7 linked regions of the Homo sapiens genome follow. The protein of the gene in region 1 purifies or fractionates together with the protein of each later gene. This does not show direct contact. Each region holds a gene or a part of one and is shown in the gene's direction. Other genes may lie near its edges.

Region 1 (4,402 bases):
GACCCCGAGAACCTCATCACGGGCATCGAGGTGATCGACGAAGGCTGGTGGCGTGGCTATGGGCCGGATGGCCATTTTGGCATGTTCCCTGCCAACTACGTGGAGCTCATTGAGTGAGGCTGAGGGCACATCTTGCCCTTCCCCTCTCAGACATGGCTTCCTTATTGCTGGAAGAGGAGGCCTGGGAGTTGACATTCAGCACTCTTCCAGGAATAGGACCCCCAGTGAGGATGAGGCCTCAGGGCTCCCTCCGGCTTGGCAGACTCAGCCTGTCACCCCAAATGCAGCAATGGCCTGGTGATTCCCACACATCCTTCCTGCATCCCCCGACCCTCCCAGACAGCTTGGCTCTTGCCCCTGACAGGATACTGAGCCAAGCCCTGCCTGTGGCCAAGCCCTGAGTGGCCACTGCCAAGCTGCGGGGAAGGGTCCTGAGCAGGGGCATCTGGGAGGCTCTGGCTGCCTTCTGCATTTATTTGCCTTTTTTCTTTTTCTCTTGCTTCTAAGGGGTGGTGGCCACCACTGTTTAGAATGACCCTTGGGAACAGTGAACGTAGAGAATTGTTTTTAGCAGAGTTTGTGACCAAAGTCAGAGTGGATCATGGTGGTTTGGCAGCAGGGAATTTGTCTTGTTGGAGCCTGCTCTGTGCTCCCCACTCCATTTCTCTGTCCCTCTGCCTGGGCTATGGGAAGTGGGGATGCAGATGGCCAAGCTCCCACCCTGGGTATTCAAAAACGGCAGACACAACATGTTCCTCCACGCGGCTCACTCGATGCCTGCAGGCCCCAGTGTGTGCCTCAACTGATTCTGACTTCAGGAAAAGTAACACAGAGTGGCCTTGGCCTGTTGTCTTCCCCTATTTTCTGTCCCAGCTCATCCGTGTCTCTGAAGAACAAATATGCTTTTGGACCACGAATTCCCAGTTTGGTCTACACAGGCTCGCAGCTCTCACCTGTCCTGCTGTAGCCTGAATGCTCCCATGTGGGAATAGCACCCCACCACCTGCCCAGTGTCTGCCTCTGCTCCGTGTCTGGGGTGAGCACCCTCACCCTGAGACTGTGGCTGATGATGATCAGCCACCAGGAAGAGGCTAAATGTTAAGATGGGACTGAAGTTGGAGCCTTCCTGCGTTCCAGTTCCTCTAGGAGAGGCCAAGGGCTGCCCTGCTCCCAGCTTCAGGGAGCCTCTGCCTACATGGGATGGCCCACTGTGTGGCGTCAGGTACCTGGCACCCACTGAGCATCCGGGGAATTAGGTCCCTCCTGTGCCCCAGAGCTGCTAGGCAGACTGCTAGGCGGTTGACTCAAGGTGTTACCTGCTAGTGCCTGGGGTGAAGGCTGCATGGAGCCCAACCTTGCTCCTGGCCTTCCTGTGCTCAGGCCTCTCCCCTTTTCGCCAGGGCTTCCTGGTGCCTCTCCCATGAAGAGGGAACTTCCCCTCCACTCCCATGGAAGACCCAGGTTTGGGCTGTTGCCAGCTTTGAGGCCCCCTGTGGGCTTGCCTGTCCCAACCCAAGAGGCAGGGCTCAAAGTGCCACCCGGGGGTTGCAAGGACAGCAGAGGACCACCTGCCCTCTGCAGGAAGCTGTCCAGGAAGCCGTGTCCTGGGCTGTGGTCCTTGCTCCCCATGGGGAGAGCTGGGTCACTTGGCCTCTTCTAACTGGCCCCAAGCACGCCAATTCTGGAGCATGGTTACTAAGTGGCTCTGAAGCTTCAGGGTCACCACAGGCTTGTCCTGACTGCAAACTCATGGAGTGGTTGCAGCCCTGGCTCAGTGTCCTGATGACTAGGTGTGGGTACTAGGCTCCTGCCCCTGGTGACACACGTATGGAGTGGGGGAGGGTGGGTGGCTGCACCCCTGGTTCTGGAGTCCCCACAGCTGATGGCGGTGTGAGCCTGGCATGCACGGCTGCGCTGGACTCCAGGCTGTTGGGGGAGGTGCCTTTATTGCCCAAGCCCACCCCTCACTTGGCCTTGCCCTGGGCAGCCACAGCCTCCATGGCCTTCCGCACCGTTTCCTCATCACCCAGGAACTGCATGGGCTTGGTGGGCTTCAGCTCCTTGTTCAGCTCATACACAATGGGGATCCCCGTGGGCAGGTTCAGCTCCATGATCGCCTGGTCTGACATCCCTATGCCGGAAGGAATAGGTGTCCTTAGCCCCTCTGTCCCCAGCCTGTTTACACAGCAGACACTATGTGACCTTTATGGTCCACAGAGCCAGTTCCCCTGGCACCAATTCCTTCCCAGCCCTGAGAACGAGGCCACAGAAATGTTGCCAAAGGTCAAGGAGTAACTGAGTTAGACCAAGCAGCCTACAGAAATAGCCCAGTGGTGAAAAAAATGGGGACTTCAGCCCCACCCAAGTGGCTGTGATCTGTGGTGGTGCTGTCCATAGTTCCCTCAGCCCAGTGTGACTCCAGCCAGACTGAAGTTGAGGGTCAGGAAGGGACACTCACCCTTTGTTTTTTTTTTTTCTTTTCTTTTTCTTTTTCTTTTTTTTGAGATGGAGTTTTACTCCTCTTGCCCAGGCTGGAGTGCAGTGGCACGATCTTGGCTCACTGCAACCTCCATCTCCTGGGTTGAAGTGATTCTGCCTCAGCCTCCCAAGTAGCTGGGATTACAGGTGAGCGCCACCACACCCGGCTAATTTTGTATTTTTAGTAGAAACGGGTTTTACCATGTTGGTCAGGCTGGTCTCAAACTCCTGACCTCAGGTGATCTGCCTGCCTCAGCCTCCCAAAGTGCTGGGATTACAGGAGTGAGCCACCGTGCCCAGCACCCTTTGGTTTCTAAAGTGCTCTAAATTCTAGACATCCTGAACAGAGGAGCAAGTGCGGAATGGAGCTGGAGGAGGGACAGGGAGGCCGAGCCTGGTCGAAACCTGACCCTGCCTGCCTCCTGCAGCCCCTGAGCTGGGAATAGCAGCTCGACCTTTGATGTTCGCGCCACTCCACCCCTGCTCCGTGCAGGAGGGTTTAAGAAAATGTTCTCTGGGGAGTCAGAGTGAAATCCCTCATATTCACCACCAAAAGTGCGTCCCCTTTCCCCAAACCAGGCTGTGGGAGGGTCATGGGGCTGCATGAAGTCTCCGGAAGGGAGAGGAGGCAGGTGGTCCTTCCCTCTGCCTGGCCCCAGTGCCAGGTGCCAGGTGTCCGTGTTTGGAGCGGGCAGGCTTGGGGCTGGCTGGGTCTCCGGGGCCTGCCGGTCTGGGTGCTCTGGCCAACTGCCCAACGGCCCTAGGAGCAGGAGGTCTGGGGCACACCCTTCTAGCCTTTCCAGGACTCAACAAGCTTTAAGGTCATTCAGATGCTAATTTAGACTGCCCTTGTGTCAGAATACTAAGGTGGGAGGCGGAGCGGAGGTGCCAGTCACTCTGGGCGAGGCCTTACTGCGCCCATGCATCCCGGGCCCATTTGTCAGCCCTTGCTCTTCAGTGGGAGCCCAGCTGCAAGCCCAGAGTCTGGCCACTCCATAGTCCTGCACCCCTCTTTTGATTGGTCTTTCCTTTGCCCAGAGAGGGGCTCCAGAGGGAGATAGGTGGTGAAGCTCATGCAGGGATTCTGAGGACCTGATGGGGGAGGGCCCTGCGAGGGGTCCAAGCCTACATCAAGAGGAATTCAGTACCAGGGGGAGCTCCCCACCACCCCGGAAAAGGGAGAGGCCCAGAGATGGAGGTGGCTTGTCCAGGGCCCCACAGTAAGTTGGGATTTGGAGCCAGATGCTCTAAGCCCAGCCCTTCCGTTTCCTAGCTGGGTGTCCCTTGGCAGATGCCACCTTTGGAGCCTGCCCCACCTCGGGACACAGCGAGCTTCGAGTGCAGTCAGCCCCTGTGGAGTGTGTCCCAGTTACACAGAAATGGGGAAAATTTCACAAAACTAAAAAATGGCTTCTCAGCCCTCCTTTTTCAGTGAATGATGTGGAGCCCCACGCCTAGAAAGCCTGGTCCATGGGCGAGAGACTTTGCTGAGATGAGAAGCCAGCTGGGGCTGCTGCCCACCCACCCTGCCCAGGCTCCTGAAGGTGGCCTCACCTTCCAGGTGCTTGACAATGCCCCGCAGGCTGTTCCCGTGGGCTGCAATGAGCACTCGCTTGCCGGCCTTGATCTGGGGAACAATCTCCTCGTTCCAGAAGGGCAGGGCCCGGGCAATGGTGTCCTTGAGGCTCTCGCAGGTGGGGAGTTCCCCGGGCTTCAGGCCTGCGTACCGACGCTCCTGGGGGACACAGGCACGCTGCTTTCCCTCCCAAGCCAGTGGGCCCCCACCCGACTCCCCACTCTGCAGCTTCCCAGAGGCCTTCCCAGCAAAGGCAGCCCACCTTGCTAATGGAGTTGTAGTAGGGGTGCTTCTCGTCCATCGGGGGCGGCGGGATGTCGAAGGAGCGCCTCCAGATCTTCACCTGCT
Region 2 (4,402 bases), on another chromosome or scaffold:
ATCTGCCTCTGCCATTGGGATAGATTTTTAACCTCTTTAAGTCTCAGTTTCTTCACCTGTAAAATGGAGGCAATTACACTTCTCTTATGGAGCTGTAGGAGGATTGGATGTTATCTATGTAAAGCACCCAGCACAGGGCTTGGCTCAAAGCAAGTGCTGGATAGAGGAAAGGTGGTGGTCAGTAGCAGGGGCAATACTGGCAGTGATAGTTGTAATTATTGTTGTCTTTATAGTAATGGTAGTAGTATTAATACATACATTGTTACTTTGTGAGTGGAGTAAAAACTTCAGAGGCCCAGAAGTCGTAACCAGGTCTGTTAAGCTTTGAAGTACCTTTGAGTATTTGGATGTTCATGTTGGTCTCTAAAAGGGAGACCCTTCATGCGCTCTCAGTGCCTTAAAAGTCTTAATATATCTCACTGAGGAAGCCAAGGCTAAACTTTCTACTTGACATTACAGGAGTTTTTCCCAAAGGGATTTTGGAGTCTGAGTTTAGCATACGATAATCATTTGCCACTTATCTCTGTCATTGAATTACTTTATCCCCCCTCTATTTCCACACTTTCCATCACAATCTACTCTCCATAATCAAGTGGCAGTGACATAAACCCTTTTGGGGACCTTTAGTAAGACCTTCGAAACTTGAGTTCACTTCTTTTTTCTTCTTTAGCTCTTTTTTAAAAAAATATTGGGCCAGGTGTGGTGGCTCACACCTGTAATCCCAGCACTTTGGGAGGCCAAAGTGGGCGGATCACAAGGTCAGGAGATCCAGACCATCCTGGTCAACATGGTGAAACCCCGTCTCTACTAAAAATACAAAGATTAGCTGGGCGTGGTGGCATACGCCTGTAATCCCGTCTACTTGGGAGGTTGAGGCAGGAGAATCACTTGAACCAGGGAGTCAGAGGTTGCAGTGAGCCAAGATTGTGCCACCGTACTCCAGCCTGGCAACAGAGCCAGACTCTGTCTAAAAAAAAAAAAAAAAAAAAATCAAATACATATATACTCCCTTTTTCATTAATAGTTTTGCCAGAATGTATGGCTTTTGATTATAAATCTTATTTTTAGGTCAGCATGGTGGCTCATGCCTGTAATCCCAGCACTTTGGGATGCTGAGACAGGAGGATTGCTTGAGCCTAGGAGTTCAAGACAGCCTAGGCAACAAACTCAGACCCTGCTTATCCAAAAAAAAAAAAAAAAAATTAGCCAGGTGTGGTGGCACACACCTGTGGTCTCAGCTACTGGGGAGGCTGAAGTGGGAGGATCATTTGAGCCCAGGAGTTATGATCATGCTACTGCACTCTAGCCTGGGTGACAGAGTGAGACCTTGTCTCTAAAATAATCGTAATAATAAATGAGTACATCTTTTTTGTAAGCTGAGATAGTGAGTTGCTGCTGTAGTATTTGTCCACAATTAAAACAATGTAGTAAACATATTAGATATTGAAATAGTTTCTAATTCCTAATAGTCATTCAAAATACATATCTTACTATGAACATTAAAAATACATATCTGAGCCAGGCATGGTGGCTCACACCTATAATCCCAGCACTTTGGGAGGTGGAGGCAGGTGGATCACTTACTTGAGGCCAGGAGTTTGAGAGCAACCTGGTCAACATAGCGAGATCCCATCTCTTAAAAAAGATACATACACACACATACACACACACACACACACATCTGTCTTAAAGTTTGAGTTCAGCTAAGGGGTCAGTTATGTTTCAGGAATGTCCATGCAGAAGAAAAGTGATTTATGTATTGAAAATCTGTGTCTGGTCAACATGAGAAGATCGTTTGAAGCTTGAATGGTGTGTTCTTCTGTCTACCTTGAAAAACTTGTCCCAAAGTGAGTTTTCAAGATACAGGATGTATGACTGTCTAATGCTTGTGAGGAGCTTAGCAAGAATGACCAGCGAATTGCTTATGAGTCTCATTAGCTCATTTACAGTTGCCTTAAAACATAGCTGCATTGGGCTAACCCAAATGCCTCATCAACATACCTGTACAGATTCAAATATATGAGAAGTCTTCCCTCTAGAGAGTGAGCCCTTGCTTAGTGCTGCCTTTACAGCACTGTGCATCTTCTGGATTGTTCCGTTCAGTGGAAGAGAAGCAATGACCCCTCATAACAGAGACCTAGATTGAGTTGCTAATTATTCAGCCAGTATACAGTATATACTATAGTGTGGTTACTGAGATACTGAATAGTTTAAGAGTTTCTGCCATAATTAGTACCTCACCTACTACTTAAAAAAAAATAAACAACCATAACTTAATTCATGTTTTCAAAAAAAATTTAAAGCTTGAAGGAACCATATTTGTAACAACAAAATGTCACTTAAAATGATGGAGCCTATCAATATATTGTTACCTATGCAAGAACTCCCTTTACAGAGCTTGAAGTAATGCTAGTAATGTGACACATAATATATTTTATTCATGATTTGTCATTTAAATGTGTTCAGAATACTGATGGATTCATAAATATCTCATGAAAGCATACATTTTGACAAAGTACCAGGAGGCCCAAGGACATACAAATGGGGCAGAGAATCAGAATCCATTTGCAGTGTCCCCGACCTCTCTCACTGGCATGTTATAGACAAGTAAAGGTTGCACCCATAGCTAACACACACAAAAAGAAACACAATTAACAAGTACCTTTTGTTTGTTACCTTCTCATAAATGGCAATTAAATGAGTAAAAGTAGGTTGGTGTTAAGCTTGGCAAAAGATACTGTGGGGAAGAAAGTTGGCTGCTGGTTGTGTTTATTGTTTGTGCCATTTCAAGCTAGCAACCCTAACTGAGTCTCAGTCATTAGAATTTAGGTTTATTCCAAAGGTAATATCGACAGCTCAAATATGAGATTTGGCCAACAGTTACATAAAGTCACCATGCAGAGTACACCTCTTAATTTTTTTCAAATTTGTTTATAAGTAGTAGCATAAGCTCATGATAGTCTTTGGATTCGTTTTTTAATCTTATGATTAGGATCAAGGGTCAAAATAATATATGCTGCATATAAGATAAGAAAATAGAGGAAGCATGTGCTTTATAATAACTTCAGACCATGTCTGTGAAAACATTGTTTCCCATCAATATTTGATTGAGAGATGCAGTTTATTCAATATGCACTATGTATCAGACACTGTTCTAAGTGCTTTACAAATATTAACCCACTACAGTTAATTTATAACTTTCCTCAGAGGTAGGCACTATTATTAGTCCCATATTGAGGAAAAATCAGGCACAGAGGGGTATGATTATTTGGTCAAAGTCACAGAGCTCATTAAGAGTGAGGCTGGGATTCCCCAGCCGGTGATCTTGAGTCCTTGTGGTTAATCACTGCAGGTAAATCCCTGCAAGTTAATCACTGTGGTTAATGGTGCTTTCTTTATATTCTTATATGAGTTCATTTAGCCTCTAGATCTCACAAGTAGAAATTAAAATACATATGATAAATTAAGTTTTGGTACTAGACAATTTCTACGTTAAATAGTGGAAAGAAATATGTTAATTAATAGAAATATAAGTTCATTAAAATCTTAGATGAAAAAAGATTTTAAAACAGAAATTCAAAAGTATATATTATAAATGAAAGTATCATGTGTAGATTCTGAGTTTGGGGCTTCTGCCCAAGCTGTGTCAGAAAAAAGCATTACCAAGAGGTGGACCTACTTCGTACCCCTTCTTCTGCCCTGACACAGGCAGGAGAATGCAAGGTCAGAGATAAGTGGTAGATGGGGGGCCCTCTAGTTGCTGCCCATGCTAAAGAGGCATGGCAGAATTTCTCAAGTAGTTGCTTTACCAGTTGCTGCAGAAAGCTGCTCCTGGCTGCTCTAACTTTAGGCCTCTAGAAGCCCTGCTGCTTGAATCCATTGGTTTTACCTCCTGACTTATTCTTGAGGATTCCCTGGCAATGAATACAGGTTCCACCTTACATTGACCTTACACTTCAAGGATTGTAAACCATTGCTGATACTTTATCCCACTTGAGGCTTATAAGGGTTCTGTGAAATAAGCCCATACCCTCATTCTGAGGATAAGGAAACTGAAGTTCATGGAAGGTAATGCAGGTGGAGGAAGCAGGACTAAAACTCAGATTTTCTGATTTTTTCTTAGCTGTTCTTTTGGGTTCTCTTGCATTGTGTACTATACCTTCACTCCTGGCCTGTACCCACCTTTGACAGGAGCCCAACTGACTCATCTGACTTCCTGATGACTATTCCCCTGGAAATCTTCCCTTAGTTTCATAAACTAACAACGATGAGACTGTCTGATCCCTAGATTGAGTGACTAGTTATTCAGCCAGCACCTATAGTCTGGTTATTGACATACTGGATAATTTCTGGGTTTCTACTATAATTAGTACCTCACCTACTACCTAAAAAAAGCCAACAA
Region 3 (4,402 bases), on another chromosome or scaffold:
GGGATTTGGTTGGAAACATGACAGATAAAGCAGTGGATTGAATGATAGGCCTTGGGTTCCAGTCACTGCCTGGTGGTTTTAGGGGTCTGTAAGCTTGAACTTTATTTTACAAAAGCTTTTATTTAGAGTGTACACCCTGAACTCAAGTCCTGATTGTGGGGTATTTAACAGTGATGAAAGAGCCAGGCTGTTCTTAGCCTTTTACCTTAGCAAGACAAACAGTATCCAACTGGTTCTCATTAGCATGAAGGAGGAAACTTGGAGAAGCCATGCACGTTGACAACAATTTTTTTTTTTTTTTTTGAGACGGAGTCTCACTCAGTTGCCTAGGCTGGAGTGCAGTGGTGCGATCTTGGCTCACTCCAACCTCCGCCTCCCAGGTTCAAGTGATTCTCCTGCCTCAGACTCCTGAGTAGCTGGGATTACAGGCGCCCACCACCACACCTGGCTAATTTATGTATTTTTAGTAGAGACGGGGTTTCACCATGTTGGCCAGGCTGGTCTCAAATTCCTAACCTTGAGTGATCCGCCCGCCTCAGCCTCCCAAAGTGCTGGGATTACAGGTGTGAGCCACTGTGCCCGGCTAACAACAAATATTTAAAGGCAGGAAAGTGGCAGTGCTCTTTGGCTCCAGTGAGCAGTCATGGCTCAATAAATAGAAATTTCAGGAGAGCCAATTTCCATTGATTATAAAGACTTAGGTTTGTAGCAACTAGAGCTGCCCTCTGGGAAAAGGGTGATTTTATCATCAACGACTGCTCAAACTGGGTTTGGAGAACAACCCAGTATGGCTTTTACAGAGCAGAGTTGTGCCTTAAGGGGAAGATGCATGGTTTCTAAACCCCTTTAAACTCTGAGATTGCATGGGGGAAGGCAGCTGCAGATCATGCTGCCTGAAAAGAGAGGATCTGATTTCAGGCCCCAGAAATCATGATTTTCCTAGTTCTTAGTTTCCGCATCTCTAATGTGAGTTTTTTCTAAGGTTTCTAGTCTGAGCTTCGAGACTGAGTTTCTGCTCATGCTTACTCACCACTGAGTGTGAGGCTTTTAATGACCTGGGCCAGTGACTGGCTGCAGCCTAGGGTAGCCCCAAACCCACGCCTTCTCCAATTAAGGGACTCTTCCGGACAGAGCTCAGAGCAAAGGGTAGTAGCAGGCTTTGAGCTGCAGGGAGATACTGTCATATCCTAGACTGAAGGAAGTTAAGCTGAGCAGAAAAATGCTCTGAAGAATGACTCAGAAGAGGCTCTTGTGAGGAAGCTTCCTTGGAGTACGCGTGTTTGGATTTGGGGAGGTGAAGGTCGTCCCCATGCCAGGCTGGCCGGGGCTGTTTGTGACATCGTGGAGCTGAGTGTTCAGAGCATGGGCTTCAGGGCAGGTAGTCGTGGGTTCGAATTTTGGTTCTGCAGCTCAGTAGCTGTGTGACCTTAGCCAGTTATTCCACTTCTCTGAGCCTCGGTGTCTCCATTGTTAGTGATGGAGATGGATTTAGTTTGGAACCTTGCCACCTCCCAGGGTGGTTGTGAGGGTCCAGTGAGGTCACATGTGAGAACACCAGACTAAGATGTTAGTGTCAGTTCCAATATTCAGGGCCGTGGGGCAGGGGGAAGGGCGATGAGGAGACACAGAAGTGTGTGGGCAGCAGAGACTGTGGAAGTGTGGAGGCATGGGGAGGCCTGAGGGCTCTGCTTCGAGAGTCAGAGGATGGTGGCCTCCGAGTGAGGACTGGGTTAAGGGAAGGGGTGGGTGTGTCTGGGACTTAGGGAGAATGCTGTTGTGTGGAGGTAGAGTAAAGACAGCAGGAGGGAGAGAAAGGGTGTGCGAGGGCCAGAGGGGACTGTGGAGGGGGTGGGCACACACCCTGTGCGGGGCTGGGGGTGTGAGATGGCTAATGTGGTTGGGGTCAGCGTGGGCAGGGCTGTGGGCATCGTTGTGTGGGTGGGAGGCCCAGAAGTGTCGCCCTCCCCATCCTGAGGGACTGGTTCCTCGCTGGGAGGAGGAGGATGTAGCCAGAACCTCTGGGAAAACAATGAGTAACAGGCACCAGAGGCAGCCAGGTCCAGATGTGCTGCCTACCTAGGACCACAGGCTGTGCTGGCTGGTCCCTCCCCTGCCCTTCCTCAGGCCTTGCCCCTCCACTTTGCCCCTGTGGGTGGAGTGGCACTTTCCCCCACCCTGGAGGCCCAGGGAAGGAAAGCTGCCTTTATGAGCCTGAAGCATCTTGGAGGTCTCCTGGGGCCAGCAATGGTGGGCTCTTTGCCAAAAGTCTCAGGCCTTCCTCCCCCCATCCTGTGCTCTCCTGCCCCAAGAGAGGAGGCTCTGGTGGGCCGGGAGGGCGGGGCACACGCTGCACCTTGCTGACTTGTTGTACAGTAGGTCCTACTCTGCGTGGCTGCACCTGGAAGCACGTTCTTTCAGCTGCACAGGTGTCTTTCCCTTTTGGCCTTTATGAAATGCCTGCTGTGCACACTCCATATATTTGCACAGAGGCACAGGTGGGACGGAAAGAGTGGGGAAAGCAGACACAACCTGCTCGCTTCCTGCTGTGTTGCTTCCTGTCTGGGACCTTCCATTCCTCCTCTGTGAGATGAGAAACAGCCGCCCTTGCCCTAGAGAGTGGGTGAACAAAGCCCTGGGTACCAGGTCTGGAGGCTCAGTGGGTGCTGGGTCCTGGATCCTGCGATGGGGCTGCCTGTTCCAGAAAACCCGCTCCCTGCTCCCACCTCAAAGGTGAGAAAGGGAATCTATTTTTTTAAAAAGTCAAACTTAAGAAAAATTACAAGAATACAATGAACTCCCACATACCCCTCACCTAGATTCACGAATTAGTAACATTTGCCTTATTTACTCTAACTCTAATCTCTATAGTTATTGTCATAATTATTGCTGATTCAGGTAGGAGTAAGCTGCAGACATCACAGTCCTTTTCCCCTAAATATCCCAGCGGGAATTAACTAAGAATAAGGATATTATCATACATAACCAAAGCGTGAGTTCCACCTTTAGAAACTTTTTTTTTTTTTTTTTTTTTGAGATAGGGTCTTGCTCTTGTCACCCAGGCTGGAGTGCAGTGGCGCCATCTCAGCTCACTGCAACCTCCGCCTCCCAGGTTCAAGTGATTCTTCTACCTCAGCCTCCCGAGTAGCTGGGACTACAGGTGCCCACAACCATGCCCGGCTAATTTTTGTATTTTTAGTAGAGACGGGGTTTCACCACGTTGGCCAGGTTTGTCTCAAACTGCTGACCTCTGGTGATCCGCCAGCCTCAACCTCCCAAAGTGCTGGGATTACAGGCGTGAGCCATCACTCCCGGCCTAGAAACTTTCACATTGATGGAATCATGTATTTGTTTCCCAGACCTGCCATAACAAAGTACCACAGACTGGGTGGCTTAAACGACAGAGATTTATTTTCTCACAGTTCTGGAGGCTAGACGTCTCAGATCAAGGTGCCGACAGGTTTGGTTCTTCTGAAGGCCCTTTCCTTGGCCTGCAGATGGCCATCTTCTCACTGTGTCCTGGCTTGGTCTTTCCTCTGTGTGAGTCCGGATTTTCTCATCTCATAAAGATACCAGTAAGATTAGATTAGGGCCTGCCCTAAAGATCTTATTTTAACTTAATTACCTCTTTAAAGACATTATCTTCAAATATGATTACATTCTCAGGTCCTGGTGGTTAGAACTTCAGCATATGAATGGGGGAGAGAGAACAATTCAGTCCATAACAAATACTATGATCTAACAGGCAGTCCACACTCAGGCATGCTGGTTGTCCTGGGGATGTTCTTTGTGGCATCCCCCCACATTGACCCACAATCCAGCTTTGTTATGTCTCCTCAGTGTCTTGCCTGGAACAGTTTCTCAGCCTTGGTGGAGAAAGGGAACCTTCACGTTGCAGGGAAGCAAAGGTGCTCAGCAGGAATGGGGGTTCAGAAGCGCAGGCTGCCCCAGGACAGGGAAGCTGTTGAAGGGTTTGCTCTAGTCCATGAAGTTGCCTTTCCTGGCTTTTTCTTTGATGTCAAAAGCACCAGGAGGTGAGCTTAGATCTCAGGAAGCGCACCAAGAATCCGTGCATGAGTCCCCTGCGGTGTGTCTGACTCCATCACCATGGCGCCTGTTCGTTGCTGGGCTGGTTGGCCTGCAGAGCCCTGAGTGGTCTCATGGAGGGTGCCCTTCTGAGTGACCTTGAGCATGTGACTTCTATTCCTACCAATTTCAGTGTCCTAATGTATAGAACAGCCAGTGACACAAATTATAGTAGTAAACATTTTTTGAGCATTCTTGTCATGCAAATCAATAAAAAATCTGAGCCACCCAGAAAGTCCATGAGGCCCTAAGTCATTCAACTTAGCGTTTACTGTGCATTGGCTCACTTCATCTTCTCAGTAACCCTAGGTGCTGTCAT
Region 4 (4,402 bases), on another chromosome or scaffold:
TCAGCATTTTCCCTGTCTCTCTCCAAAACCAGGAGAAATATCTGTATAACACAAAGACTGCTGCGCTGAAAGGAGACACCCAGGCTCTTCTTCCGAGCTCTGGAGTCTGAGAGCCTCCAGTAGAAACAGCCTCTTGCTGCCCCTCCTGTGTGGGTTGTCATTGTAGTTGTCCTCTTTAGCCACTAGATGGTGACCATCTGGCTTTAAGATGGCACTTCCGGTCTCTTTTGTCTTGTTTGGTTAATACCTTTTCCCTGCCTTCCTTATGGCCATTAAGGGGAGTCTGAGGGGAGTGAGGGGAAATAAACCCACGTGGCCAATCTAGCATTTTTAACTAGAAGTCCCCTTTTGGAAAGAAGGCAACTAACATTTGTTGAGCCGCTGTCCAGGCGAAGCTCTGTGCGGGGTGGGCTGTATCCATCATCTCATTTAATCATCACAGCCACCCTGCAAGGTTGGCACTCTTCTTCCCACTTTAGGGATGAGGACTGTTAGCATCTGAGAGATGAAGTAACTTGTGCAGTGGCTTGTGGCCAGTCAGTGGTGACCGGAATCTGTTCCCTGCTTGGACCCAGTGCAGGCACAGCTCCAGACACATGGCTGACACTCAGTAAATCAGCATCGAATGAATAAAGATGGAAGTGGGGTTTGCTTCATAGCAGCCTTATAGGGTCATTGGAGAGGGTTAAATGAGATAACATAGCATTTGGTGACAGAAGCCAGTAATGTAAACTCCTGAAGAGAAAACGTCTCTCTTCCTCTTAGGTAAATATAGTAGATGACATAGGATTCATTGACTCCTTTAATTCCTCCTTGAACTGCCTCATGTTTTATTTCAACTGATGTCTCCTTTTTCTCTTCCTTCCTCCTCCTGCTGCTTGGAGATTAGCAGGGCACCTAGGGAAAGATGTGACCCCGGAAAGTACTCAGTTTCCCTGCCCTGGGTAAGCCTTGCCTGGGAGTCCATGTGGGAAGCCCAGAGTGCCAGGCCCTCCCCTTTAGCTGCTTATCCTCAGGGAGGGGTGTGGTCTGGTTAGGGTCTGAGAGGAGGCAGGTGGCAGAGCAGAAAGCACATGGGCTTTAGGACTGTAAAGACCCGGCTTTATCTGTCCAAATGCACATTCTGCTATGAAAAAAAAGAAAAAGATAACAGAAGACCTGGGTTTGACTGTAGGTCGCTGCTCTCCCATGTCCTGTAGTGTCACCTTAGACAGTGGTACATCTCCTCTGTGCCTCAGATGCTTCCTCTGTAGAATGAGCATACTAGTATCAACCTCAGATGTGGCTATAAAAGATCAAATGAATAACATGTCAGTTGCCTAATGCCTGATTCCTTTTCCTGCTTTGTGGACTCCTGTAGAAGTCAAGAAGGAATTCTCCTTCTTTGAAGAATATTTCCACTTTTGAGAATCATCAGATTATCTGTCCTAGAGACTAATGGGGGTTGGGATGGGGGAGGAGCAGGGCTTTTTCCCTTAAGGAAAGCCTGGTTATTCCAGTACCTCAGAGGTACTGTTGCTTGTGCCAGGCAGAGGACACAGAAATTAGACTTTTGTCTCAAACTGGGGAACAGACAGAGAGCATTGGTAGGGAGAGGAGGCCTCAGGTCACATGGGAGCATCAGTGTGGGGTGCCAGGGAGGGGAACTCCCAGAGGTTAAAAGACAGGGCTGAGTTCTGGGGGATTTGTTTGCTTTTTTACCCTCAGAGTGCCAAGGAGTACCGACAGCGAAGCCTACTGGAAAAAGAACTGCTTTTCTTCGCTTATGATGTTTTTGGAATTCCCTTTGTGGATCCGGTGAGCTAGGGTACAGGAGCCGGAAGGGAGCGGGGAAAGAGTGAGCAGGAGAGATGAATGGGGAGGAGGGGAACACTGTGCGATTCTGAGAGAAAACTTGCTGGAGGCTGAGCCTAGCCTGGGATCTGTGCAAGGCAGGGATGAGAGACAGATGAAAGGGGAACACTGGGCAGCTAGAAGGGACTTAGATGTGGAAACCTCCCATTTTGTCTCCTGAAAGGAAGAGGGTGATAAGCTGGATTACTCCTGTGGGCCTTATTTTATGCATTGAGACACCTGGAAGATTAAGTAGATCATCTTACCTTTTTCATTTCTTCCTGACCTACTTAGGATTCATGGACTCCAGAAGAAGTGATTCCCAAGAGATTGCAAGAGAAACAGAAGTGAGGACCTTGAAGAAACTGCATGGTTGGATCAGTCTGATGAAGCACTTGAGGCTTCCTGAGCCCAGGCAGATGTGAACTCCTGGCAAGGGGTGGGCAGGTCCAGTTTGGGAAGTCGGGGTGGAGCCCAGGGCTGGCCCTGGAATGCAGTCCTCAGAGCGGCTGTGCTCATAGGTCAGAACGGGAAACAGCCGTACGCATCTCCCAGGAGATTGGGAACCTTATGAAGGAAATCGAGACCCTTGTGGAAGAGAAGACCAAGGAGTCACTGGATGTGAGCAGACTGACCCGGGAAGGTGAGAGGACAGAAATAGGGGCATGTCTGGCTGTTGTCAGGGAGCCAGGCAGGTCACCCCACATTTGCCAGGCAGCGCTCCACCCCAGCATTGCAGAGCTCACCATGAGCCAGCCACCCTTAGGGTGCAAGTTCAGTGGACATCCTTCCTAACTCACCAGCGGGACTTTCAGCTGGAAAGAGCACTGAGAATCAGCCTTTGGCTCAGAAATCAGACTCCAGGATGTAGTGGTGCACACCCGTAATCCCAGCTACTTGGCAGGCTGAGGCAGGAGGATCGCTTGAGCCCAGGAGTTTGAATCCAGCCTGGGCAATATAGCAAGACCTCATCTTTAAAAAAAAAGAAAGAAATGAGACTTCTGTGTCACAGAAACATGAGTGACTAGTGTTGTCCACTTCCATAGGTATTAACTCATCCTGTCTCCCCACTCCCAAACTGTTTTCTCCCGGTTTTCACCATTCGTCCCTTTACTGAGACTCAACGCCTTCAGGCCTCCTTTGGCTCCTCTTCCTCCTGTGCCCGTTTTCTGCAAGCTGCTGGGAAGGCCTACTGATTGTGGCTCTGCTCTGCAGTGCTTCTCAGCTCTCTCCCCAGCCTTTTCCGTTTTTCATTGCCTCAGGCTTCCTTCAGGCCCTGGCACCTCCTATCTGCACCCACCCTTTCCCCGTCTGGCCTGTCCTTGCCCCTGCCCACACAAGGTAGCTAGGCCAGTCTTCCAGACACTGGCCTCTGACCCATCCTCCGTGCCTGCCCCTTAACCGAATGTTCTACTCTTGTCCTGTTTACACCGTCTCTTCACACAGGACTGCACTTTGTTCCGTGAGCCCGCCCACTGCCCACCAGTCTGTGTTTATGCCTGGCTCTCCTAGTACGCTTCCCACCATCCCTGCCCATGAGGGCATCTGAGATATACCCTGCAAAGCCTTTCTTTTTTTTTTTTTTGGAGATGGAGTCTTGCTCTGTTGCCCAGGCTGGAGTGCAGTGGTGCAATCTTGGCTCACTGCAACCTCCACATCCCGGGATCATCAAGGAATTCTCCTGCCTCAGCCTCCCAAGTAGCTGGGATTACAGGCATGTGGCACCATGCCTGGCTAATTTTTTTGTATTTTTAGTAGAGATAGGGTTTCACCATGTTGGCCAGGCTGGTCTCAAACTCCTGACCTTGTGATCCACCCGCCCTGGCCTCCCAAAGTGCTGAGATTATAGGCATAAGCCACTGTGCCCTGCCGTAAAGCCTTTCTTAACCTCCCAGATGATTGGAGTCCCCTCCTTTCTTTTGAACTTCTTAGGGCATTTATGGTCTGTCTTATGCTAGTTATTTGCATAATTGTTAGAGAACAGGTACTGTCTTCTAGGATTCATCTCTCACCCTATCTGGCACAGTTCCTGGTACACACTGAGGCCTCAGTTATCAAGTGGAGTTGAACTGAGTCTCTAGTATTAGTATGTCCCTAGCACAGAGAAACACCATGAGAACTGTAAGAGAGAAATGTTGACCTTTGCCCTATAGTTGCTTAAATTAACAGTGGTTAATTAAACAAGATTAGCGTATGAAAAGAATTTGTCCAGCATTCCTTTGTTTTCAGACCACTTTCACTTTGTTATTTCTCTTGATTCTTATAACTGAGAGGTGAGTCATGCAGATTGCAAGATCCTTATTTTAAATGAATAATGATGATGATACCATGGTAGCCAAACTTTTGAGGACTTACCATATGCCAAATATTGTACTAAGCTTTTAACTTGCCTTCCTTGTTCTTAACATTATACTGGCATCAAACATATAAGGTAGATGCTGTTTGACAGATGAGAACATTTTAATTAATTAAAATTAACCTCAGGGAGGTTAAGTAACTTGCCAAGGTCACACAGCTAATCAATGGAGGATCTAGGAGTCAAAGTCAGTTCTTCCTCGTTCCCGAGCTC
Region 5 (4,402 bases), on another chromosome or scaffold:
TGAGCAGCATCTGGTGGGTGGCCTCCAGGCCATGGAGAGACACTATCACCCCACCTGCCAGCGCACAAATGCCCCTAGATGTAGAAAGCCCCTTGGTCAGAACCCCTGCTGTACATGAATTCTTCTTCTTCTTTTTTTTTTCATTTAACCTATATAGAGACAAGACTTGCTTTGCTACCCAGGCTAGTCTTGAACTCCTAGCCTCAAGGGATCCTCCCGCCTTGGCCTCTGAAAGTGTTGAGGTTACAGGTGTGATCCACCATGTCCAGCCACAAATTCTTTTTATCCTAATGGCCTGTGAAGTAGGGACCGTTTGCATCCTCATTTGACAGGGGAAGAAACTGAGGTGTGGGCAGAGGGACACGGCCAGGTTTCTGCAGCTCCATAGGGCAGAGCTGGCCAGGACTCCCCCAAATACTGCCGCCTGGGACACAGGCACCAGGTCGGGCACAGGGACGGGACAAAAACCAACATCTGTGGGGCAGTTTCTCCATGCCAGGTGTTGACTCGCTGAATCCTTATGCACACCTGCTGAAGTTGGGCCCACTGTGTCTCCTCCACACGGGAGGGATCGGGCCAGGGGGTCTGGAGAGGACACACAGAGCCAGGATCCCAGCCTGGTGGAGCTCTTCGTATGTGCTGGATGCCTGCCTGCATGTGCTATACTAGCGCCCCAACTGGACTCTTTCCTTTTATTTTCTCTAACAGCTTTATTGAGATGTAATTCATAGGCCATACAATTCATCCTTTTAAAGTGTATAACTTAGTACTCTTGGCCAGGCGTGGTGGCTCACATCTGGAATCCTAACACTTTGGGAGGCCGAGGCGGGAGAATTGCTCGAGCCCAGGAGTTTGAGACCAGCCTGGGCAACATAGGGAAACCCCTGTCTCTACAAAAATTAAAAAATTAGCTGGACGTGGTGGTGCGTGACTGTACCTCCATCTACTCAGGAGACTGAAGTGGTGGGATTGCCTGAGCCTGGGAAGTTGAGGCTGCAGTGAGCCATGATTGCATCTCCAGCCTGCGTGACAGAGCAAGACCTGTCTGAAAACAAACACAAAAACCAGAAAAACAACGTAGTACTTCTTAGTGTATTCAGTGCTGTGCAGCCATCATCACTCTCTAATTTTAGATGTGATCAGACGCGTTCGGGGTGGTATGGCTATCGGCAGTCACTATCTAATTTTGGAACATTTTCTTCTTTTCTTTCTTTTTTTTTTTTTTGAGACAGAGTCTCGCTCTTGTCACCCAGGCTGGAGCGCAATGGCGCGATCTCGGCTCACTACAACCTCCTCCTCCCAGGTTCAAGCAGTTCTGCCTCAGCCTCTCAAGTAGCTGGGATTACAGGCGCCCGCCACCGCGCCCGGCTAATTTTTGTATTTTTAGTAGAGACGGGGTTTCACCCTGTTGGCCAGGCTGGTCTCAACCTCCTGACCTCAGGTGATCCACCCGCCTCAGCCTCCCAAAGTGTTGGGATTACAGGCGTGAGCCACTGCGCCCGGCCAAAATTTCAGAACATCTTCATCCTCTCCCCCAAGCAGAAATTCTGTACCCGTTAAGCAATCACTCGGCGTCCGTCCTCTCCCGCAGCCCCTGCAACATGAATCTACTTACTGCCTCTAAGGATTTCCCTCTCCGGGACATTTGTACAAACGGAATCCCACACCGTGAGGCCTTTTCTGCCTGGCTCCTTTCATATGCTGCAAGGTCCCCGAGTGGTGGCGGGTGGCAGTGCTGTGTTCCTTCCCGCGGCTGAATGTGTCCTGTTGCGTGGGTCCACCGTGCCCTGCCTCTTCCTCCGCCTGTCTGCTGACAGTCCCTGGTTTCCTTGTATCTCTGGGCTCTCGTGCTCCTGTGGACATAGCTGCGCAGGTGTTTTTATGGACATTTGTTTTCCGTTCTCTTGGGTGTATACCTAGCAGTGGAGTTGCTGGGTCATATCGTAACTCTACATTTAATCTGTTCGAGGTTGGCTTTTTTTTTTTTCTTTTTTTGTTTCTTGAGACGGAGTCTCGCTCTGTGGCCCAGGCTGGAGTGCAGTGGCGCAATCTCGGCTCACTGCAACCTCCACCTCCCAGGTTCAAGGGATTCCCCTGCCTCAGCCTCCCAAGTACCTGGGTTTACAGGCACATGCCACCATGCCCAGCTAATTTTTTTTGTACTTTTAGTACAGAGAGACGGGGTTTCACCCTGTTGGCCAGTCTGGTCTCAAACCCCCGACCTCAGGTGAGCACCTCAGCCTCCCTAAGTGCTGGGATTATAGGCATGAGCCACTGTGCCTGGCCTGAGGTTGGCTATTTTTTAATTCCAGCAGCCTATCTGGTCATTGAAATGGGGGCTGTGAGGGGGGTCCAACACCCTCTTTCTCTCCCTCACCCCCATGTATCCTGAGTCCTGGAATCAGTGTTGTGTTCCTGGCAGATGGTGGCCCCAGCCATGCAGAGGCTGGGAGGAGAACAGGGAGGGTTTGGGTAGGAGGAGATTCCGGAAGAAGGAAGCATTCTGATGAGGCAAGGAAAGGGGCACTTGGAAAGTCACAGCCAAAACTAGGGTGACAGGGACAGACAGACATGGGGCAGCTCGGCCACAAAGGGCAGAGAGAAGGACATGGTGTCCCGAGGGCCAGAGCAGGGTAGAGAGGGGCTGGCAGAGTTTTCTTCTAATAGCTTGCATTAAAAAAGAAGTCTTTAGGTCATCTTGGTGGTTCACACCTGGTCCCACCTACCTGGGAGGCTGAGGAGGGAGGATCATCTGAGCCTGGGAGGCAGAGGCTGCAGTCAGCTGAGATCGTGCCACTGCACTCCAGCCTGGGTGACAGAGTGAGACCCTGTCTAAAAAAAAAAAAAGTCATTACATATTTTTAAAAATCTGTGAGACAGTCACATCGTTCACCAGGTACAAAAGAGTACATAGCAAATGGTCCCTGTCCCCAAACCTGGTCCCCATTCCAGAGAAAACCACTGTTATACCTGTTTCTGCTTCCAGAGATTTTAATAAATCTGTAAGAACAAATGTGGGTGTGTGTGGTGTGTGTGTGATGTGTGTGTGTAGTGGGTGTGTGGCGCGTGTGTAGGGTGTGTATGGTGTGTATGTGGGGTGTTTGGCGTGTCGTGTGTTAGTGTAGCGTGTACATGGGTTGTGTGGTGTGTGGTATATATGTGGAGGTGTGTGTGGTGTGTGTGTTGCATGTGTATGTGTGTGGGATGTGTGTGCTGGGGGGATGTATGTATATGTGTGGGGTATGTGGGGTGCATATGAGGTGTGTATGTGTGGTGCGTATGTGTGGTGTGTGGATGTGCATGGCGTGTGTGGGATGTGTGGATGTGGTGTGTGTATACGGGGTGTGTGGTGTGTGCTTATGTGGAGTGTGTCGTGTGTGGTATGTGTGCACACAGACACACGGATTAATCTCGTTTCCTCAGATGTGCACGGCTGGCACAGGCCATCCTGACTGTGGCGCACCTTGACCTGCCTCTGTCCTTTTTTCTTAAGCAACAGTAGCTTATCTTTCCCCTTCCTGCGGGTGAGGAATGCAGCAGTGGCCCCTGCTGAGGAGGGCGGCTTCTGGCTTTGCGTCTTCATGAGGTTGCATGAGGTTGCATGAGGTTGTGGTCAGCCGTCAGCCGGGCCTCGTTCCCTGAAGGTCTCATTGCACTAAGCCCTGTGCGCTGCACCTCATTGATCCCTCACAATCCCCCTCTGAGGAAGGGGTGCTAGAGATGGGCTTCCACCATGGCTCGCCCCGGGGCTAGCAGAGTTTTGCTGGCAGTTGGCAGGAAGCTCGGGCTGCGTGAGCGGCCTCACCACGTGGTGGTCGGCTTCCCCAGCGAAAGTTGTGCACGATGCAGGGCAAGAGCTCTGGGAGCTTGGATGCCATTCTTTTTTTTGCTCGGGGGTAAAATTCACATGAAAATGTTAAAGTATACCATTCAGTGGCATCTGTCCTTTTTTTTGGTGGCTGCAGGGTATGCCATTGTGTGGCTGTCCAGTACCATTACTGGAGTTCCGTGCTGGGAGCCATTTGCAGGGTACGTCCCCTCAGCTCCTGCTGCCCGAGGCGGTGGTGCCACTGCCCTTCCCAGGACAGGAGGGGATGGACTCGCTCGCCCTCTGTGGAGCCACTCCAAAGTGGTTCCTTGTTACAGTCTACCAGAGTGGCACATTTATTACAATCGATGAACCTACATGGACACCTCATTGTCACCCAGAGTCCATAGTTGACACTGGGGCGCACTCTTGATGCTGTATGTACTATGGGTTTGGACAACTGTATCATGACATGGATCCATACTGTAGTATTCTACAGAGGAATCTCGCTGCCCTACAAATCCTCTGTGCTCCCGCTAGTCATCCCACCCCTGAGCTTTTTACTGTCTCCATAGTTTTGCCTTTTCCAGAATG
Region 6 (4,402 bases), on another chromosome or scaffold:
ATTTTGCTGAATTTATTCTAATGGTTTTCTGGTGGAGTCTTTAGGATTTTCTATATATAAGATCATGTCATCTGCAAAAAGAGACAATTTTACGTATTTTTTATTTGGATACCTTTTATTTCTTTCACTTTCCTAATTCACACTTTGAGCATGTTTAAAAGGTATTTCATAAAAAATGTATATGAGGGCCGGGCGCAGTGGCTCATGCCTGTAATCCCAGCACTCTGGGAGGCTGAGGCGGGTGGATCACCTGAGGTCAGGAGTTTGAGACCAGCCTGACCAACATGGTGAAACCCTGTGTCTGCTAAAATACAAAATTAGCCGGGCATGGTGGCAGGCACCTGTAATCCCAGCTACTTGGGAGGCTGAGGCAGGAGAGTCTCTTGCACCTGGGAGGCAGAGGTTGCAGTGACCTGAGATTGCACCATTGCACTCCAGCCTGGGCAATAAGAATAAAACTCCGTCTCAAAAAAAAAGTATATGAGGAATATATTCTTATAGTGCTTTGTGTGAAAAAATAAAATGGTAATGTATAATAAGACTAGAATATATTGGTATACAAGAAAACTTTAGAAAGTGTTGTTTTGTCTTTCATTGCAAATTAAAGGATACCTCTGACATGAGAGTAGTGAACAAGCGGTACGTGGTAATTTTCCTTTATCCTGCCTTTTGCATTTGGTCAAATCAAACAGAGTCAACAGAGAAGGTAATTGAGGCTCCCTCCACAGCTAACTGTTGGTTATCTAGTTCTTTGTTCCATTGGGGCTACAGATGTCAAATTTTTGGGAAATTTTAGCTGCAAATTCGGCTGTATTTTTCTTATTCATTATGAAAATGCCATGTGCTGCTTTGGGAAGTAATACATGCTTCCCTTTCATTGGAAGCATTTAAGTAGAAGTAGGGTAATAATAATGATTAACATGTACTGACAATTTACTTTGTACTATTTATCTTGGTATCAACTCTTTGAGATGAGAACTATTACTATTTTCTATTAAGATGAGAAACCAAGGCCTAGAGAGGTTAAATAGCTGGGATAAAGTGAAAAACTAATGACTGGCAGAGATGGGATTCAAACCTAAGGAGGTCTGATGTTAGAACATACACGCTAACTATTGTTACACACTACCTGTTCCTTGAGGGATGTGAATGGAGGGATTTGCTGTTTTGCTTGGGAGATTGTAATAGAAAGCCTTCCAAGGCTTTCTAACTCTTAAAAGACTAGGACTTTTTTTTTTTCTTTTCTATTTTTTTGAGGCAAGGTCTTGCTCTGTCATTTAGGCTGGAGTACATTGGCATGATTATGGCTCACTGCAGCCTCAACCTCCCTGGCTCAAGCGATTCTCCCACCTTAGCCTCCTAAGTGGCTGGGACTACAGATGTGCACCCAATGCCTGGCTAGTTATTTTATTTTTTTGTAGAGATAGGGCCTCACTGTGTTGCCCAGGTTGGTGTCAAATTCCTGTTCTCAAGCAACCCTCCTGCCTTCACCTCTCAAAGTGCTGGAATTACACGTGTGAGCCACCATGCTGGAACAGAAGGCTGGAATTTTGAAGTGGTCCATGTTACTTGTCAGGCCTACCTTGGTCCTCCTATTTACTGTTCCTCAACTGGGGCCTTCTTATCTCTGCTTATTAGATTGGCCCTCTACCAAAAGCTATCATTACTTGAAGCCTAGAGCAGTTAGCCTCAAATGTTAGGATACTAACCTTTAAAACACATTAGCATTTAAAAAAATTTAGATTCCTGTGGTAGGTCAGAGTTCTGTTTTACTTTGGGATATAGCGTAGTAATTTTCCCCCTTACCCGCATTGTTCCATGTAGTAGTTATTTAGGCAGCCTTAGCACATCCTGAAACAACATCCAGTCCTCCCTGTTCCAGGTTGCCACCTGTCTTTGGTCTTAGTTGAGGTAATAGGATTTTGCTTTGTTTCCCGGATCCTGTTCTGTGTCTATTAACTGTATTTTACCTTAGCCCTTTCCTGAGGCTCTATTCTTTTTTGTTTTTTGAGACAGGGTCTCACTCCCATTGCCCAGGCTGGAGTGCAGTGGTGCAATCTCAGCTCACCACAGCTTCGACTTCCCAGGCTCAAGCCATCCTCCCACCTCAGCCTCCTAAGCAGCGGGGACTGCAGGCGTATGCCACCATGCCTGGCTAATTTTTTTTTGTAGTTTTAGTTGAGACAGGGTTTTACCATGTTGCTCAGGCTGATCTGGGACTCCCAGGCTCAAGAGACCTACCAACCTTGGCCTCCCAAAGTGCTGATTACAGGCATGAGCCTGAGATTCTATTCTAGTAACATGCTTTGTTCTCTGGTTTCTAGAACTGGTCCTGCCACCATCTTTGCCAGACTCTCTCCCAGGGATCAGGTTGGCAGGCTTATCTGAGTTGTCAGATGGCATGGATTTCCGAGAATCTTCTTGTCTTTCCTTTACTGAGCTGTCTTCATCCATTGAAACTCCTGCCACCCTTATACTCCCTTAGCAGCCCTGCTACCTGTGGTTGTAGTTAAGAATATCTCCTACTCCATATTTCAGGAAGGGGCAGGACATTTTTTTTTTTTTGAGATGGAGTCTCGCTCTGTCACCCAGGCTGGAGTGCAGTGGTGTGATCTTGGCTCACTGCAATCTCTGCCTCCCCGGTTCAAGCGATTCTCCGGCCTCAGCCTCCTGAGCAGCTGGGACTACAGACATGTGCCACCATGCCCAGCTAATTTTGAATTTTTAGTGGAGACAGGGTTTCACCATGTTGGCTAGGATGGTCTCAATCTCTTGACCTTGTGATCCGCCTGCCTCGGCCACCCAAAGTGCTGGGATTACAGGCGTGAGCCACTGTGCCCGGCCAAGAACATTTTAAAATCTACCAATCTACCATTTATCCTGCCTTCTTTCCCTTTGAGGTCTCTTGGCTATATGCCACCTCTGCTCTGGAGGATTTTTGCATTTCTTTCTGGTTTGGGGCTTCTTAGAGCTTCCTTTGTAATTAGGATAGAGATAGGAAGAATGATAGACACAAAAGGTGTTTACCTTTGCTGCTTGCTTTACTTGCTATGTGTGTTTCTGCCTCCTGTGCTTGTGTACTCTGGGGCACTGAGCACACCATAGGTGACATGGTGCTAGATATGTTTAATGAGACAGTATGGTGCTGGTCTCCAGTGATGAGTGACAATGGACAACATTCATTCATTCACCCACCTCTTCCACAAATAGTAATAATTTATTTGTGACAGAATCTCACTTTGTTGCCGAGGCTGGAGTGCAGTGCAGTGGTGTGATCTTGGTTCCCTGCAACCTCTGCGTTTTGGGTTCAAGCGATTCTCCTGCCTCAGGCGCCCAAGTAGCTGGGACAACAGGCATGGGCCACCATGCCCGGCTAATTTTTATGTTTCTGGTAGGGATGGGGCTTCACCATGTTGGTCAGGCTGGTCTTCAACTCCTGACCTCAAGTGATCCTCCCGCCTTGGCCTCCCAGGGTGCTGGGATTACAGGCCACAAATAATTATTGAGCATCTACTGTGTGCTTTCTGGAAGTATATGATTTTTCACTCAAGGATTTTATACTTTAGTGGGCAGGGGTAAAATAGATAAATTCACTGCTGTGAGGTACAGTAATACTTAGATAATAGTGTGTGGAGTGTCTTGGGAGCAGCTGGGAGAGGCATTTAACCCAGCGGGTGGTAAGGAGTACTGGAAGGACAGCTTCCTGAAAAAGGTGATACTGAGCTGAGGCTTGAAGATATATTTTAACCTTAAAAATGAATTCCTCAGGGGGAAGAATGGATGCCTTGAAACTTGCTCTCAAGTTTTTCATGTGTTTCTTTTTGTAACTTAATGTCTCTACTTTGCATATGTCCCTTTGGCCTTTGCAGTCTCTATGTCTGTCATTCTTTGCATAATAATTCATATCAAAGGGGAGAAACAGCTATTTTTTGTCCCTAGAAGTTCTGCTCTTAAGGTTGAAAAGAAAGTTTGAAAAATCATATCATTTAGGTTAGAAGTACTTTGTGTTGTTGGTATCCAAAATTAGGACTCTGAGATTCTTGTGTATTCAGAGAATTTTTAGTAGGAAACAAGGACAAATTTGCATATGAAATGAAAATAGTTATTACATGACAAAATATGTAGATCTGATTTCTAGAAACTGAATTAGTCCAAAACAAGTAAGAGTGGGAAAAGCAGTAAAAAGTTCTTCTTGAATATTGCTGTTGTCATCCAAAGTATTCTTATTTCTTTTAGGTGAAAAATTTCCATTACTCTTTTGTGATATTCTCAAAAGAAAGTTTAGGATTTTACAGTGTTCTGAAATACTGAATCTTAATTCAGTATTTCAATAGAGTATTATTGATTTGCTTCCTTATCAGTAGATTTTTAAATTATTTATTTCTAGGCTATAGATCTTCCT
Region 7 (4,402 bases), on another chromosome or scaffold:
AGCAGGCTTTTTGTTGTAATAATTACCAGGAAAGTTAGGGATTCTTCCTTCTAATCATTCCCTATCTCTGTTAGCTTCTTTAAATATGTTTTGCCCTACAAAGCCTCCGTTCTTAAAAATCATTAATTTAGCAAGTATTTACTGAGTCATATCTTTTTTTAATTTATTGAGTTTCATCTTCTGTATACTAGGCACTATGCTAAAGCTCTGGTGTAGTAATCCATCTACTTAATTGTCTGTTGTAGCCTTTGCTCAAAATATTTTTTCTTTTGACCTAAGAAATCAGTTTACTTTCTGGTTAAGAAGGGAGCATTTACTTTTCCCTAACTAAATCTATCAGATGTTAATTTTTAAAAATTAATTCCAACAGGTTGTACATATAGCTAGTAAGCCCCTTGCTATGGAATAGGGACTATATCTATAAAGCTAGTGTTCAGCTACTGAGGGTTCTTCATTTTTAGCTATATGAGCACAATTTAAGTTACTAAGACTCATTAACTATGAACTTTTGGTTATTTCTTTAATAGTATTGCATAGTGGATACTTTCATCTTGGGAGGTTAACAAGATGGGGCAGAGAGTCAAAATAGAGGGAATAAATAATGGGGAAGTAACGAGCTTCTTGTTTGCTTGAGGAACTCTGTTTCAACCCAAGAGAATCTGTTCAGAGCCTGTTTTGGTCCTGAGGGAACATTTGTTGTGGTTTACAGCAGAGGTCTTTACCTTCATTCAGGAGCACATTAGCTCTGACTTGCATGCTCTATCAAAATTTGTATTCTTACTACTTTCCAAAATAGACTACATTTTTCTTTTTTTTTTGGAGACTGAGTTTTGCTTTTGTCACCTAGGCTGGAGTGCAATGGTGCGATCTCGGCTCACTGCAACCCCCGCCTCCTGGGTTCAAGCAATTCTCATGCCTCAGCCTCCCAAGTAGCTGGGATTACAGGCACCCACCACCACGCCTGGCTAATTTTTTGCATTTTTAGTAGAGACAGGGTTTCGCCATGTTGGCCAGGCTGGTCTTGAACTCCTGACCTCAGGTGATCCACCTGCCTCAGCCTCCCAAAGTGCTGGGATTACAGTTGTGAGCCACTGTGCCCGGCCTAAAATAGACTACTTTTTGCAAGGCAAGATTAGTCAGGGCTATATTCAGCTGTACTAGAAGACATCAAGTATGAAAATAGATTAAAATACACCAGTAAAATTTAAGTTCAGGAAAGAAGAAAATACTAGAAGGTGGGTTGGTAGTAAAAATATGGTAGCATAAATGATTCTTTTAAAATGAAAGGTATAATTATCCTTTTATCATTTTGGTTCTGAATTTCCTAGACATTCTACCCTGTAGGAAAGACTGTTCTCCTTACATAGCCCTAACCTAGTTTTGTTTTCTCAGCCGTGTTACTTTTACCAATTCAGAAAGTGAGTTTGGTTAGGGATTAGTTTATGGTCAGCTCTAGCTATCAACAGAAAAGTGAGTGTGAGTAACAGTTGGTAGAATTAAAATCATAGATCCTTACCCCCACATTTATAACAGTAATGTATTATTCATTCAAACTATAACGCAAATACCTAGAAACCTCAAATAATTACAGTTTATGTTATTTTTTTTCTTTCCTGAGAAACAGGATAATAAGAGTTATACAAATAGAGACTTCAAGTGGTGGGACAGGTGACCATCATTAAGAGGGCCAGGACCTGTATGTTTTTAATCCAGACTGCTGCACACCTGTAACATACAGCTAGCAAGCAGTGAAATTGGTTTCTAACATGGAATAAGCACTATCCAGATGCAGCATCTCTAAAAATACTCACTGTAACTATACTTAAAACAGTGATGATGGTGTTATCCAAAGGGATTTTGAAACTGTTCTTTTGACCAGTTCTCAAAATCACTTTCTGTGTTATACTAGAAGACATCAGGTATGAAAATAGATTAAAATACACCAGTAAAATTTAAGTTCAGGAAAGAAGAAAATCCTAGAAGGTGGGTTGATAGTAAAAATATGGTAGCATATTACTTTGCCAGGTGAGTCTTTTGAACCAATAACTATCATTTGATTTTATCCTTTGATAAGACTTGGCTATACTGAAGAATTTGTATTAGTAGTATGCTAAATTATGGGAAAATATAACTTCTTGTATTCATTCTCATACATCTTTTATCTCTCCCATTTACTTGAAAGCAGTTGTTTGTGATTATTATGTAGTTTAGTGACAGTGAACACTTAGTTAACACGTATACCAGGAATTGTTCTCAGTGCTTTACAAATGTTAACTTGTTTAAACCTAGGCAACTCTGCCTCTCCATTTTATAAATGAAAAAAATGGAAGCACAAAGAGTTGAAGTATTAATAGTTTGCCCAAGGTTTCACAGCCATTTAGTGGTAGAGCTGGGATTTGAACTCTTGTCTCTGGAACAGGTGCTCTTAAGCATGGTTTTCCTTCTTTCCTCACCTACTTCATATGGGGAATAAGAAGGAGGGTAGGACAAAACCCAGAATTACAAAGAGCAAAAGCTCTCACATAATCCCACACCTAGAGGTCAGGATTGCCTATGTTTGGACATTATTATATCCTTGCTACCTCTCCTTTCTTGACTCGCCTCCTCACATAAATCATGTGTTTATATGACTGGAATCAAATCTGAAAGACCTGTGAAGTTTCCTCTTTCCATGTCAAAGCAGAGTAGCTATGAGTATTGTATTATCGTAAATTTTTTTTCCTTGATAGATGTTGGGTTTGTTTCCCAGTTTTTGTGAAATTATAAAGAGAGGACTGTGGTTAACATCCATGTGTACATGCATCTGTATACACTTACCAATTCTTAAGGATGTTTCTGGAAGTGGCACTTCTGGTGCACAAAGCACACCTATTTATATATTTTAGTAGGTAGCAATAAAAAATTGTAAAGTTCACACTTAGCTCATAGGTGAATAAAACCTTAATTTGCATTTTTGTCAGGTTAAAAGTGTTTTCATTTTTGTGTCTCCTGTCTTCTGTGAATTGCTTCTTTTGTTCATTTAAAATGGGATGATCTTATTCTTACAGATGTAATAAGCCTTTATATTTTAGGCTGTTAACTGTAATATTACAAATGTTTTCCTACCTCATCTTTCTTCAAATGTTATTTAGATCTTAAGATAATTTTAAAAATTATAGTATGAACTATTCATGGTGATGACTAATTGTAGGTCCTCTGTTTAAAAAAAGCAGTTATTTCTTATATTGTACTTAATATCTTAGAAAAACCATAAATAAGTAATTGAAACAAGTTTTGTGGTTAGTCTTCTCTTTTCTCTGAGTATTTCAAATATTTAATGGGTGTAGTCTTAAGCTGTCGTTCCTTTTTTAAAAAATATGCAAAGTTATTCTGTGTGAGAGGGTTTTCAGATAAGATTAATGGTGAAACAATCTTGTACAAAGTTAGAATTAAGCTTATCATTTTTTGATATAGAATTACCTACATTTTTTTTTAGTTAACTGTTTTTTACATGTTTTAGGTATGTCCCGCCAGAACAAGCCAAAGTCGTGGCATCAGTTCATGCATCTATTTCAGGGTCCTCTGCCAGTAGCACAAGCAGCACACCTGAGGTCAAACCACTGAAATCTCTTTTAGGGGATTCTGCACCAACACTGCACTTAAATAAGGGCACACCTAGTCAGGTGAGTAGTCTTTGAATCTTTGTAGGGAATTCGACTTAAAGAGGGCTTGAGTATCAAGAATTTGAGAATTGTTTAAGACAGCAGCATAATCTTGTATGCCAGTAGCATTATGTTCCAATGGTTTGTTATACATTAAGAAATTGTTGGTTAAGTGGTTGAAATGTATATATACTTGTTCTTTTTGCTATTGCTAATATGAGTTTCTTTGACTTCTCTGCAACTTTGTAAAGGTGAGTTATACAGGAATGTTGCTATAGCTATATATATGTGTGTGTGTGTATACATGTATATATCATGTGTTATACAATTTGTAAAACATGAATCTATGGTGACCATCAGAGTTAGAATGTATAGTCTCTTTGATACACTTTTCTAGGAAGGGATTTCTTTAGTAGTAGAGTTTTCCCACATGTGTGATTGTGAAGCATGTTGATCATTGAAACACAAGGGACTTTGCATTATACCTTATTCTTAAAAATGAACAAAATGGAATATTTTCATAAGTTGCTACCTAAAGTTTGTCTTCTACACTTTATTATAGTTGATGGGGCTGTGACAGATCTGTTACTGTGTGGCATTGCAGCCTCTATCCTATACAAGAATGGTTCAGAGGCGTAGTACTGTGGATTAAATCCTGCCCTTTTTGATGACACATACTAAGACATTTAGATAAATTTCTCTGTTTTCACAAAAGATTGAGTGAAAAATGAGAAAGGTTAACTCAGCATACTGTAACTCTT

What was found.
Region 2: the proteins of DBNL (region 1) and CRYBG1 fractionate together in Homo sapiens (co-fractionation; one large-scale study listed by BioGRID). This does not show direct contact.
Region 3: the proteins of DBNL (region 1) and USP20 purify together in Homo sapiens (affinity purification with mass spectrometry; 3 studies listed by BioGRID and IntAct, with this or other methods). This does not show direct contact.
Region 4: the proteins of DBNL (region 1) and P3H1 fractionate together in Homo sapiens (co-fractionation; one large-scale study listed by BioGRID). This does not show direct contact.
Region 5: the proteins of DBNL (region 1) and HSPBP1 purify together in Homo sapiens (affinity purification with mass spectrometry; 2 studies listed by BioGRID and IntAct, with this or other methods). This does not show direct contact.
Region 6: the proteins of DBNL (region 1) and ERO1A fractionate together in Homo sapiens (co-fractionation; one large-scale study listed by BioGRID). This does not show direct contact.
Region 7: the proteins of DBNL (region 1) and AGFG1 fractionate together in Homo sapiens (co-fractionation; one large-scale study listed by BioGRID). This does not show direct contact.

Annotation. Positions count from the first base shown.
Region 1 is NC_000007.14:44,060,800-44,065,201, forward strand, and holds part of DBNL (drebrin-like protein), read left to right. Parts: coding exon 1-117; 3' UTR 118-1,964; coding exon of another isoform or gene 1,965-2,131; 3' UTR 2,132-4,032; coding exon of another isoform or gene 4,033-4,213; 3' UTR 4,214-4,316; coding exon of another isoform or gene 4,317-4,402. Other genes in the region: PGAM2 (phosphoglycerate mutase 2), read right to left, coding at 1,965-2,131, 4,033-4,213, 4,317-4,402. UniProt on the Homo sapiens protein: Adapter protein that binds F-actin and DNM1, and thereby plays a role in receptor-mediated endocytosis.
Region 2 is NC_000006.12:106,366,616-106,371,017, forward strand, and holds part of CRYBG1 (beta/gamma crystallin domain-containing protein 1), read left to right. Parts: intron 1-4,402. UniProt on the Homo sapiens protein: May function as suppressor of malignant melanoma. It may exert its effects through interactions with the cytoskeleton.
Region 3 is NC_000009.12:129,837,757-129,842,158, forward strand, and holds part of USP20 (ubiquitin carboxyl-terminal hydrolase 20), read left to right. Parts: intron 1-4,402.
Region 4 is NC_000001.11:42,752,943-42,757,344, reverse strand, and holds part of P3H1 (prolyl 3-hydroxylase 1 isoform 1 precursor), read left to right. Parts: intron 1-889; coding exon of another isoform or gene 890-944; intron 945-1,707; coding exon 1,708-1,797; intron 1,798-2,127; coding exon 2,128-2,180; coding exon of another isoform or gene 2,181-2,248; intron 2,249-2,354; coding exon 2,355-2,476; intron 2,477-4,402. UniProt on the Homo sapiens protein: Basement membrane-associated chondroitin sulfate proteoglycan (CSPG). Has prolyl 3-hydroxylase activity catalyzing the post-translational formation of 3-hydroxyproline in -Xaa-Pro-Gly- sequences in collagens, especially types IV and V.
Region 5 is NC_000019.10:55,269,662-55,274,063, reverse strand, and holds part of HSPBP1 (hsp70-binding protein 1), read left to right. Parts: intron 1-4,402. UniProt on the Homo sapiens protein: Inhibits HSPA1A chaperone activity by changing the conformation of the ATP-binding domain of HSPA1A and interfering with ATP binding. Interferes with ubiquitination mediated by STUB1 and inhibits chaperone-assisted degradation of immature CFTR.
Region 6 is NC_000014.9:52,685,038-52,689,439, reverse strand, and holds part of ERO1A (ERO1-like protein alpha isoform 2 precursor), read left to right. Parts: intron 1-4,402. UniProt on the Homo sapiens protein: Oxidoreductase involved in disulfide bond formation in the endoplasmic reticulum. Efficiently reoxidizes P4HB/PDI, the enzyme catalyzing protein disulfide formation, in order to allow P4HB to sustain additional rounds of disulfide formation.
Region 7 is NC_000002.12:227,520,264-227,524,665, forward strand, and holds part of AGFG1 (arf-GAP domain and FG repeat-containing protein 1), read left to right. Parts: intron 1-3,499; coding exon 3,500-3,662; intron 3,663-4,402. UniProt on the Homo sapiens protein: Required for vesicle docking or fusion during acrosome biogenesis. May play a role in RNA trafficking or localization.